Linked DNA regions of Homo sapiens. The protein of the gene in region 2 interacts with the protein of the main gene of each other region in a pairwise test. Each region holds a gene or a part of one and is shown on either strand. Other genes may lie near its edges.

Region 1 (3,500 bases), 7.1 Mb from region 2:
TGCTTCCACATGCCGATAAAACCACTCAGGATTGTCGAAGGAATTCTGTGCCAGGGGCAACTTGGGGTGAGGACTGAGGGTGGGTAGAGGGACTCACCCCTATGTGCCCGAAGAATTCTTGGCTCTCTCCCAAATTAACTTGATGGGGATGGGAAATTTTGAGGAAAGGCACTGCACAGAAATGGAGGAGTGGCCGGGTGCGGTTGCTAAACCCTGTAATCCCAGCACTTTGAGAGGCTGAGGCAGGAGAATCACTTGAGGCCAAGAGTTCGAGACCGGCCTGGGCAACACACCCAGACCTTGTCTCTACAAAAAATTTAGAAGTTAGCAGGGCATGGTGGTACATGCCTGTAGTCCTAGCTACTTGGGAGGCTGAGGTGGGAGGATTGCTTGAGCCCAGGAGTTCAAGGTTACAGTGAGCTATGATTGTACCACTGCACTCTAGCCTGGGCTTCAGATCAAGAGCCTGTGTGTAAAAAATAAACAAATTTTAAAAGAGCAAAAGAAATGGAAGAGAGATACTAGCAGGAATCTTGGAAATATAAGGCATCCCTGAAAGGGACAAGGCATCAGAGTTAAGACCCCCAGCTTCCTTCCACCCCAATTACTGGCACTGCCTGCTGACCTCACAGTGCTCCCACAGACACAGGAAGTGGTCAGGGATATCAGGGATGACGTTCCGGCTCTGGAAGTCCAGGATGCAGGGGCCAAGGTCAGCCTGGCTTTGCAAGGCCTGCAGCCCCCACTGTTTCAGCTTGGTGTGGTAGCAGTGGAAGTAGACATGGCGGATGAGGTCAGCAGAACTGTCCAGAGAACAAAAGCCACATTCCTGCCACAAGCAGGAGAATTCTTCCTCTGTAGAAAGGGGTTTAAAAGGAAGAGTCTGACACTTTCCAAGGCTCAGGTCACCTTCCACCTGCAGCACTAAACAGAGAGTGAGGAGGCTGGACTCGTGAGGAGGCTGGACTCTAACCAAATTACCAGGGTTCATTTAGCAAATACCAGTATTTAATGACCATAAATTGTGTGCCAGTTAGAGGGACTATAACAAGTAAAAAGTGTCCCACTCCTTGCCCTCACATAGCTTTCAGTCAGGGAGAAAGCATATTCATCAAATAATCAGATCTATAAATATAAAACTGCAACCAGTGATGAGTGTTACAAAGCGGGGATATACATGGTGCTATAAAAGCATTAAACAGAGGTCATTTGACATGGTGTTCTGAGAAACGTCCCCATGTTGAACTCTGAAGTACGATGGATGAGTATCTGTAAATAGGTGAAGAAGTGTGGTCTAGGCAGAGGTGAGAGTGTGTGCAAGGCCTATGCCAGAAACAGACAGCAGAAATGGCCGGCACGCAAGTCCTCTGACTTGAGTTTCTGCAGTTCCTGATGAAGATGCTGCCTCTCGATCTGACACCTCCCACTTCTCCTTGTAAAACCACCACTCCTCCTTCCCCTCATGTTTTGCTCAAGATCTGCCTTCTCCAAGAAGGCCCCATCAACTCTTCCAATCCATTTCCTATCTCTCTAGCATCCCTAAGCACTGTATTTTCAGCGCTTTATATAAGTTAACTTGTTTTGAAACACAGATACTTTAGAAAATATAATCATTCCCCAATTTTGCCTTTGTATAAATATGACTTGAATTTTGAAACTATCAATTATGGTTCATAGTCATCAGACTTAAAACAGAATTTGGGGTGGGAGAAGGAGAGCTGCCTCCATATTTCCTGTAGAATAGAGTTTTTCAGACTGTGTTGTGACCCACTAGTGGGTTAGGAAATCAGTTCAGTGAACTATCAACCACATTTTGGGCCGGGTGCGGTGGCTCACGCCTGTAATCCCAGCACTTTGGGAGGCCGAGGCAGACAGATCACGAGGTCAGGAGATCGAGACCATCCTGGCTAACACAGTCAAACCCCGTCTCTACTAAAAAATACAAAAAAAAATTAGCTGGGCTTGGTGGTGGGCGCCTGTAGTCCCAGCTATTTGGGAGGCTGAGGCAGGAGAGTGGCATGAACCCGGGAGGCGGACCTTGCAGTGAGCGGAGATCGAGCCACTGCACTCCCACAAAAAAAAAAAAAAAGAAAAGAAAAATGTATTCCTGCCAGATGCAGTGGCTTATGCTTATAGTCCCAGCTGCTCAGCATGCTGAGGCAGGAGGATCACTTGAGGCCAAGAGTTTAAGATCAACCTGGTAACATAGCAAGACTCTGTCTCTAAAAAAAAAGTGGCTTTGGTCGGGCGCAGTGGCTCACGCCTGTAATCCCAACACTTTGGGAGGCCGAGGCAGGCAGATCACAAGGTCAGGAGTTTGGGACCAGCCTGGCCAATATGGTGAAATCCTGTCTCTACTAAAAATACAAAAATTACCCGGGCGTGGTGGCGGGCACCTGTAATCTCAGCTACTTGGGAGGCTGAAGCAGGAGAATCACTTGAACCCGGGAGGCGGAGGTTGCAATTAGCCGAGATCATGCCATTGCACTCTAGCCTGAGCAACAGAGTAAGACTCCATCTTACTCTGAAAAAAAGTTTTTTTTTTCCTTTTTCTTTTAAATCCTGCCACACTTATTAGTACCGTGACTTTGGGCAAGTTATTTTATTCCTCTGTGCCTCCGTTTCCTTATTTGTAAAATGGGTATAATAATAGTGCCTATCCCATCCTGGCTAACACAGTGAAACCCCGTCTCTACTAAAAATACAAAAAAAAATTAGCTGGGCATAGTGGCATGTGCCTGTAATCCCAGCTACTCGGGAGGCTGAGGCAGTAGAATTGCTTGAACCTGGGAGGTGGAGGTTGCAGTGAGCTGAGATCGCACCACCACACTCCAGCCTGGCGACAGAGCAAGACTCCATCTAAAAATAATAATAATAAATAATAATAATAATAGTGCCTATCTCATAGGCTCTTTGGGAAATAGTGCTTTAATGTAGGTTTAAAAAAGTACTGGCCGGGCATGGTGGCTCACGTCTATAATCCCAGCACTTTGGGAGGCTGAGGCGGGCGGATCACCTGAGGTCAGGAGTTCAAGACCAGGCTGGCCAACAGGGGCATCCTGGCTAACATGGTGAAAGCCTGTCTCTACTAAAAATACAAAAAAAAATTAGACGGGCGTAGTGGCACGCACCTGTAATCCCAGCTACTCGGGAGGCTGAGGCAGAAGAATCGCTTGAACCGAGGAGGCAGAGGTTGCAGTGAGCCGAGATTGCACCACTGCACTACAGCCTGGGCAACAAGAATGAGACTCCATCTCAAAAAAAAAATAAAGTACCCAGCAATACTTAACACACAGTAGGTACTATAGAATACAGTTCACTATTGTTATTGTTTTCAGATTGGATTTTATTAAAATCCCAGTTATTTGCTATTGATAAAAGGCATACCTAAAACATAAGTCAGACAAAGGTTAAAAAGTGAGAGATGGGGCCAGGTGCGGTGGCTCACGCCTGTAATCCCAGCACTTTGGGAGGCCGAGGTGGGCGGATCATGAGATCAA
Region 2 (3,500 bases):
GGCTGGAGTGCAGTGGCACAATCATGGCTCACTACAGTCTCAACCTCCTGGGCTCAGGTGATCCTCCTAGCTCAGCCTCCTGAGTAGCTGGGACCACAGGTGTGCGTGTGCCAACACACCCAGCTAATTTTTGTATTTTTTGTAGCAACAGGGTTTCACCACGTTGCCCAGGCTGGTCTCGAATTCCTGGGCTGAGGTGATCCGCCCGCCTCGGCCTTTTCGGCCTCTCAGAGTGCTGGGATTATAGGTGTGAGCCACCGCGCCCAGCCTCTTCTCCATTCTTGTGGGTATTCCTGTTCATCTGTTTCCCTGAATTAATGTCAATTATCACTATTTCCTAAGTGTCACATTCTTGTTCCTTTTTCTTGACTAGCATGGTTTACTAGAAACAGAAATAACAGCAAAAATATTTAGGTCTTATATAAACAAATATAGTCATCTCGTCTGTGCTTTCAAAGTTAAATTTATTATGCACAGTAATGGGTACCATGGAGACAGGGAAAGGGCTAGAAAGTGGCATCATCTATACAGAGGGAACATATAAAGACTGTCCCGGGGTGTACCCCCCTAACTGTGCTGTCACTCCAACTCTGTCAGAAAGAAAAAGTAGTGTGAGGTGTATTTGTTTGCAAGAAACAAGGTGGAAACTAGATGGACCAGCTGAGCAGGGAGGCCAAGGTCATTTCCATCTATCCCTAATGGTGTTCAGTATAGCCCTCTCCTTCCTGAGACCTAAGAACAGAAGATACGCTTCCACAACAGAGATTTTTGATTTTTTAATGGCAGCACTCTCATAACTACATTCACGGACCAACCAAAGCCATCTCCAAGCCTAGAAAGGATACATACTACACGCAGCGAAAATGCCAACCACTGATCCAGAATTTTCAAGATGGCACCTTTCCCCAAACTTCTATACCATTCATTAAACATAGACTGCAAACTGCTAGCCTGTAGACCAAATTCAACCTCTAAGTATTATTTGCTTAGGTGCCTAAGCATCTTTAAAAATTTGATTTAGTTGGCAATACACTGGGAGGTTTCACATAAATATCTAGGTTTCCAGCTTCTCTGAAGAAATGAGAAAATCCATTCCCACATGGCAACAACCAGCTGGAGCTAACAGCTGTTAGACAGCATGCCGCTCCCCGCTACTGCCTTACACCCAGCCAGCTTCATGTGTGCATGTTATCTGCCTGCCATTCACATCGGTTCTCCTTGCTCAGCAAATGTCCCACCTCAACCTCACACTCAATACCCTTATACAGGTTCCCTAATCAGAGTTCAGTAGGGCACCCACACTATAGCTGGGCAATCCCTGGATGCTGTGATATTTGTTAACCATTATGTTCTTTCCAACCACGGGAACCTTCCTAAGAGCTCAAGAGCTTCACTGCTGGATAAAAACAGTTCCTGATCCCGGATTCTGACCTTTAGTTTTCCTTTTCCAGTCACTGCCCCAGTCTGCCTGGCCCTGGGCTCTGTTCCATATTGGCAATGAGAGCCCACGGCAGGGAGACTTCCAGCAGGCTTTTCCACAGTGCAGCCAAACTATCAGTAAATAGACTTTGTTCTCCATTAAAAGCCCTGTAGCAGCTGAGTTGCTTTACCTTATCCCACCTGGCTCTTACGCAGTCTGTTCCAAGTGAGAAGTTAGCAGAGTCCTGTAAACAAAGAACAGTTCAGGGGCCAACCTGCGCTCCCAGGTGCCAGGATGCTCTCAGGGTCTTCACTGTGCTCCCAGGTGCCAGGGTGCTCCCATGGTCTTCACTGTGCTCCCAGACACTTGGCTTCATTGTTCTCATTTTGATCCTCATTTGGCATCTCTAAACGCAGGCGGTGCAGGGAATGCACAAAGAAGCGAGGAAGTTTGCAGACCAAGTTGAGTTCCTCCTTCCCGGACCCCAGGGCAGGCAGGATCAGCTGCCGGGCGTGCAGGTGAAGGGGGATGTAGCGGGCCTTCGACTGTTCTAGCCCCAGCTTCTTCAGGGTGCCCACAGACAGCTTCTATACAAAGAAAGGACAGACCCTTGAGAGCAAGGCCAACAGTCCACCCTTGACGAACATGCAAGGTCAGGGCACTTCTACTTACAGGGAACCAAAACTAACCCCCTGGAAGACACAGTAATGGAGAGTCTGCTTCAGTGGCATGTCTAAGAACGGCTCAGAACTCAGGTAAGGGAAAAATGACCACACCAAGACATTCTTTTTGGCCAGTGCTTTTTGGCCTAACAAGAGAATGGGCTGTGGTATAAGGATGAAAAGGCTTTCCCTGCGGTTTTTTAGTAGCACCATGAAAAGCTGCTCCCAGCCTTCAGAAACACCCCTCCCCTTGTCCACAGCCTCCCAACAAAATCTGAATAAACAAATGTAACAGTAAGCTTTTCACTAACAGATCCTGCAGTTCCACAAGGACAGTAACCAACTGCTCCTAAATTTCTCTAAAATCAAGATAATGAGCTTGGTATCATGTCTGAAGACAATCAGTAGGCTTTGTTGTAACTCATTTCAGAGTTTTAAGAAAAGGAACGCCTAAGTTCTCTCCCGTATCTGCTGCACATTGGGTCAAATTAGTATTACCTGGGGGGCCAACCTATTCCAGTCTGAGTACTTGTGATCACCAAGGATTGGACAATCCAATCCAAAAGACAAGTGAACTCGAAGCTGATGTTTTATTCCTTAAAAGAGAGAGAGAGAGAAAGAGAGAAAACTCGTGAGGAGCTACAGAAACAATACCAGTATTGGCATCTGCTTCAAATCGTGTTACATCAAAGTGCAGTAAACTGGCCAAGTCCCAACTATAATAAAGTATAACGAATAATATAGCAAACTATAAGTTATGTAGCACCAGCCAGTTTAGGAAGTAAACGCCGTAAATACTCTAAGTACCTCTCCCCACCACAATTCCCTCTTTCCACCATAGATAACCATTATCATGAACTTGCCGTCTACCATTACCCCAACTTTTTAGTAATTTTACTACATAAGTAGTATTGATTTGCACATTATTTGAATTGTAGTAACATATACATAAAATTTCCTGGTTTAACCACTGGCATTATACTAAATGCCAAGTCAGTGACATTAGGTGTATTCACACTGTTTTTGCAACCACCACCACCATCCATCTCTAGAACTTTCTCAGCTTCCCAAACTGAAACTCTGGACCCATTAAACAACAATTCCCTATTTATCTCCCCTCCTTTACCCTACCCTAAGATTTTGGCAACCACCATCTACTTTCTGTCTCTATACATCTGACTCTTCTAGGTACCTCACATGAGTGGAATCATATAATATTTGCCCTTTTGTGCCTGGCTTATTTTACTTAGCATAATGTTTTCAAGGTGCATCCATATTGTAGCATGTGTCAGAATTTCCCTTCCTTTAATTCTTTTAAAGCTGAAAATAACATTCTATTTTATGTGTATGCTACATTTTGTTTCTCCATTCATCCCCCAATGGTCACTGGGATTATCTTCACATTTTGTTGCTGTGAA
Region 3 (3,500 bases), on a different chromosome or scaffold from region 2:
TGAGCCACCGCGCCCGGCCTCTTCTGGAGCTTTTAAGATTTTCTCTTCACCAGCCTGTTCCAGCACTTTGATTATATAATGTACCTTGATATGGTTTTGGTTTTATCCTGCTTAAGACTGATATTCTTGGATTTGTGAGCTTACAGCTTTTCAAAAATTTGGGAAAAATTTTGGCCATAATTTTTTTTTTGAGACAGGGCTCTGTTGCCCAGGCTGGAGTGCAGTGGTACGATCATGGCTCACTGCAGCCTCCACCTCCTGCACTCAGGTGATCCTCCCGCCTCAGCCTCCCGAGTAGTTGGGACCACAGGCAGGCACTACCACGCCCGGCTAATTTTTGTATTATTTATAGAGACAGGGTCTTGCTATGTTGCCCAGGCTGGTCTTGAACTCCTGGGCTCAAGCGATCCACCCATGTCAGCCTCCCAGAGTGCTGGGATTTCGGGCAGGAGCCACCGTGTCCAGCCTTTTGGTCATATTTCTGTATTCTCTTCCCCACTGTTTTCTGGAACCTCAAATACGTTAGACCACATGATATTATGTCCTTGAAGCTCGGCTAAGTTTTTGCAGTCCTTTTTCTCCCTGTACATCACTGTGGACAGTTTCCATTGCTTTTAGTTCAGGAATCTTTTCTTCTGAAGTTTCTAATGTTTTGTTAAACCGCTCCGGTGACTCTGAAGAACCACCTTTTTACTTTAGAATACATGCCCTACACCAGTGTCCCCCATCATTAACATCCTGCCTTTGTGTGGTACAGTTGTCTCAAGAACATTAGACACATTGTTAACTAGGACCCACATTCTAATCAGATTCCTTAGCTTTTTACCCAATCCTTCCTCTGCTCCAGGACATCATCCAAAATCCATCCAGTTGTCACATCTTCTTCAGTCCCACTGACTCTGGCACCTTTCAGACTTGCCTAGTTTTTGAGAACCTTGACAATTTTGAGGACTCGTCAAACAGTTTGTGGAATGTCTCTCAATTTGGATTTGTTTGATGTTTTTTCATCATTAGCTGGGGTTACGTATGTTTTTGGGAGGAAGATCAAAGAGGTAGAGTGCTGTTCTCATCATCCTATCAAGAGTACACAACAGGCCGGGCGCGGTGGCTGACGCGCCCAACACTTTGGGAGGCCAAGGTGGGCGGATCACGAGGTCAGGAGATTGAGACCATCCTGGCTAACACGGTGAAACCCCATCTCTACTAAAAATACAACAAAATTAGCCGGGCGAGGTGGCGGGTGCCTGTAGTCCCAGCTTCGTGGGAGGCTGAGGCAGGAGAATTGCTTGGACCTGGGAGGTGGAGGTTGCAGTGAGCCGAGATTGTGCCACTGCACTCCAGCCTGGCAACAGAGCGAGACTCCGTCTCAAAAAAAAAAAAAAAAAAAAAAAGAGTACACAACAGTGATACGCATGTCACTGCTGATGGTGAGCATGGTCCCTGGTGAGGCTGTGTTGCTGGAGGTCTCCACTGGAAAGCTGCTCCTCCTGCTTCTGTGCTCTGCTCTTTGGAAGAGGGTCACTAGGTAAAGCCCAGGCTTCTGGAGTGAGGAGTTAAGCATCACCTCCTCGAAGGGGAACTATCTCAGTAAACAATGTGGAATTCTTCTACTTGGGAGATTAGTTCCAGTGACATTTTGTCCAACTTGCTTCTTTTCTGTATCTTCCATTTCTCAGTCATGTTTTCTTATTTTTTGAGACGGGGTCTCGCTCTGTCACCCAGGCTGGAGTGCAGTGGCACGATCTTGGCTCACTGCAAGCTCCACCTCCCGGGTCCAAGCAATTCTCCTGCCTCAGCCTCTGGAGGAGCTGGGACTACAGGTGCCCGCCACCACGCCCGGCTAATTTTTTGTATTTTTAGTAGAGACGGGGTTTCACCATGTTAGCCAGGATGGTCTTGATCTCCTGACCTCGTGATCCACCCGCCTCGGCCTCCCAGAGTGCTGGGATTACAGGTGTGAGCCACCACGCCCAGCCCTCAGTCACATTTTTGTGTTATTTCTTTGAGCACAGGGAACATTTTTATAATTGTTTACTGTCTTTGTTGGCTAATCCTATCAAAACTGGGCCTGCTACTGGACCCCCTCCAGTGACAAGTCCATTTTTCTGCTTTGGCTTGTCTGCCCATGACTGATTAGATTCTGGACGTGAATTTTTTTTTTTTTTTTTAGAAGGAGTCTTGCTCTGTTGCCCAGGCTGAAGTGCAGTGATGCGATCTCGGCTCACTGCAACCTCTGCCTCCCGGGCTCATGTGGTTCTCTTGCCTCAGCCTCCCAAGTAGCTGGGACCACAGGCGCCCATCACCACACATGGCTAATTTTTTGTAGTAGAGACGGCGTTTCACCATATTGGCCAGGCTGGTCTTGAACTCCTGACCTCAGATAATCCGCCTGCTTCGGCCTCCCAAAGTGCTGGGATTACAGGTGTGAGCCACTTCGCCTGGCTTCCTTCTCTCAAGAGTGCTGTGTGTACTCCGTGCTAGCAGGCAGTGGTGTTTCCAGGGCTTGCCTTGCACTTGTTTCCACGGCATTGGAGTGGCCTTTCCTCTGCAGCTTATTCTGCGCCACTTCCAAGCTGTGTTTCCTCTAAGGTGTCATGAAAGCTCCTTGTATTTAAAGTGGCTTCTATACTCTGGCTGGTGGGAACTGAAATAACCACGGCCCTGTGTGAGTCCTGCTCATCTGTCCCCTTACACTTACTCTTCCCCTTCAAGTTGCTCTTGGTCCAGCTCCACGAGGTTTCACTGTGTGCACCAGCAAATCGGATCCAACCCAAGATGCAAGCGGGCTCACGCGCAGATTGCTGGAGCTCTTTGTTTTGGGCGTAACTCCTTCCTTTCTGGTACCACACCCCACACATTCTAGCTGCCTCAGCTGCCCCAAAGTCTGGGTTTGTTGGGTTCTCTGCACGTGAGTCTGCAAATTCCCTCCACATAAAAAGCCTGGACAATTTTGTGGTTTACCTCAGTCCTCGCCGGTTTTTTCTTTTCTTTCTTTTTTTTTTTTTGAGACAGTTTCTCGCTCTGTGGCTGGAGCGCAGCGGCGCAATCTCGGCTCACTGCAACCTCTGTATCCCAGGTTCAAGTGATTCTCCTGCCTCAGCCTCCCGAGTAGCTGGGATTACAGGCACGCACCACCACGCCTGGCTATTTTTTTTTTTTTTGTATTTTTAGTAGAGACGGGGTTTCACCATGTTGGTCAGGCTGGTCTTGAACTGCTGACCTCAGGTGATCCAACCGCCTCAGCCTCCCGAAGTGCTGGGATTACAGCCGTGAGCCACCGTGCCCGGCCCTAGTTTTGTAACGTCTGAACATTTTCAGCGGCTTCTTATGCCTTAAGGGTTAAATCCAAGTTGAACATGTCAGGCAACCCCTACCTTAGGGGCCATTATGAATTTCACAGGGTCTGCTGGTGAACCCATCAGAGAACCCAGTGTCTCTCTCATCTTCCTGCCTCAGTGGAACAAGGTCCCTCCTCTGCTGACCACAGGCACCTCTTGGAG

The links. The genes of interacting proteins can lie anywhere in the genome.
Region 1: the proteins of RPUSD4 (region 2) and HINFP interact in a two-hybrid assay, tested with the Homo sapiens proteins (one large-scale study listed by BioGRID).
Region 3: the proteins of RPUSD4 (region 2) and HSF1 interact in binary tests that used the Homo sapiens proteins (3 or more experiments, as listed by UniProt).

The regions. Positions count from the first base shown.
Region 1 is NC_000011.10:119,128,080-119,131,579, reverse strand, and holds part of HINFP (histone H4 transcription factor), read right to left. Parts: intron 3,230-3,500; exon of another isoform or gene 3,132-3,229; intron 925-3,131; coding exon of another isoform or gene 856-924; coding exon 626-855; intron 46-625; coding exon 1-45. UniProt on the Homo sapiens protein: Transcriptional repressor that binds to the consensus sequence 5'-CGGACGTT-3' and to the RB1 promoter. Transcriptional activator that promotes histone H4 gene transcription at the G1/S phase transition in conjunction with NPAT.
Region 2 is NC_000011.10:126,201,651-126,205,150, forward strand, and holds the end of RPUSD4 (pseudouridylate synthase RPUSD4, mitochondrial), read right to left. Parts: intron 2,679-3,500; coding exon 2,581-2,678; intron 2,008-2,580; coding exon 1,768-2,007; 3' UTR 446-1,767; downstream 1-445. UniProt on the Homo sapiens protein: Catalyzes uridine to pseudouridine isomerization (pseudouridylation) of different mitochondrial RNA substrates. Acts on position 1397 in 16S mitochondrial ribosomal RNA (16S mt-rRNA).
Region 3 is NC_000008.11:144,298,104-144,301,603, reverse strand, and holds part of HSF1 (heat shock factor protein 1), read right to left. Parts: intron 1-3,500. UniProt on the Homo sapiens protein: Functions as a stress-inducible and DNA-binding transcription factor that plays a central role in the transcriptional activation of the heat shock response (HSR), leading to the expression of a large class of molecular chaperones, heat shock proteins (HSPs), that protect cells from cellular insult damage.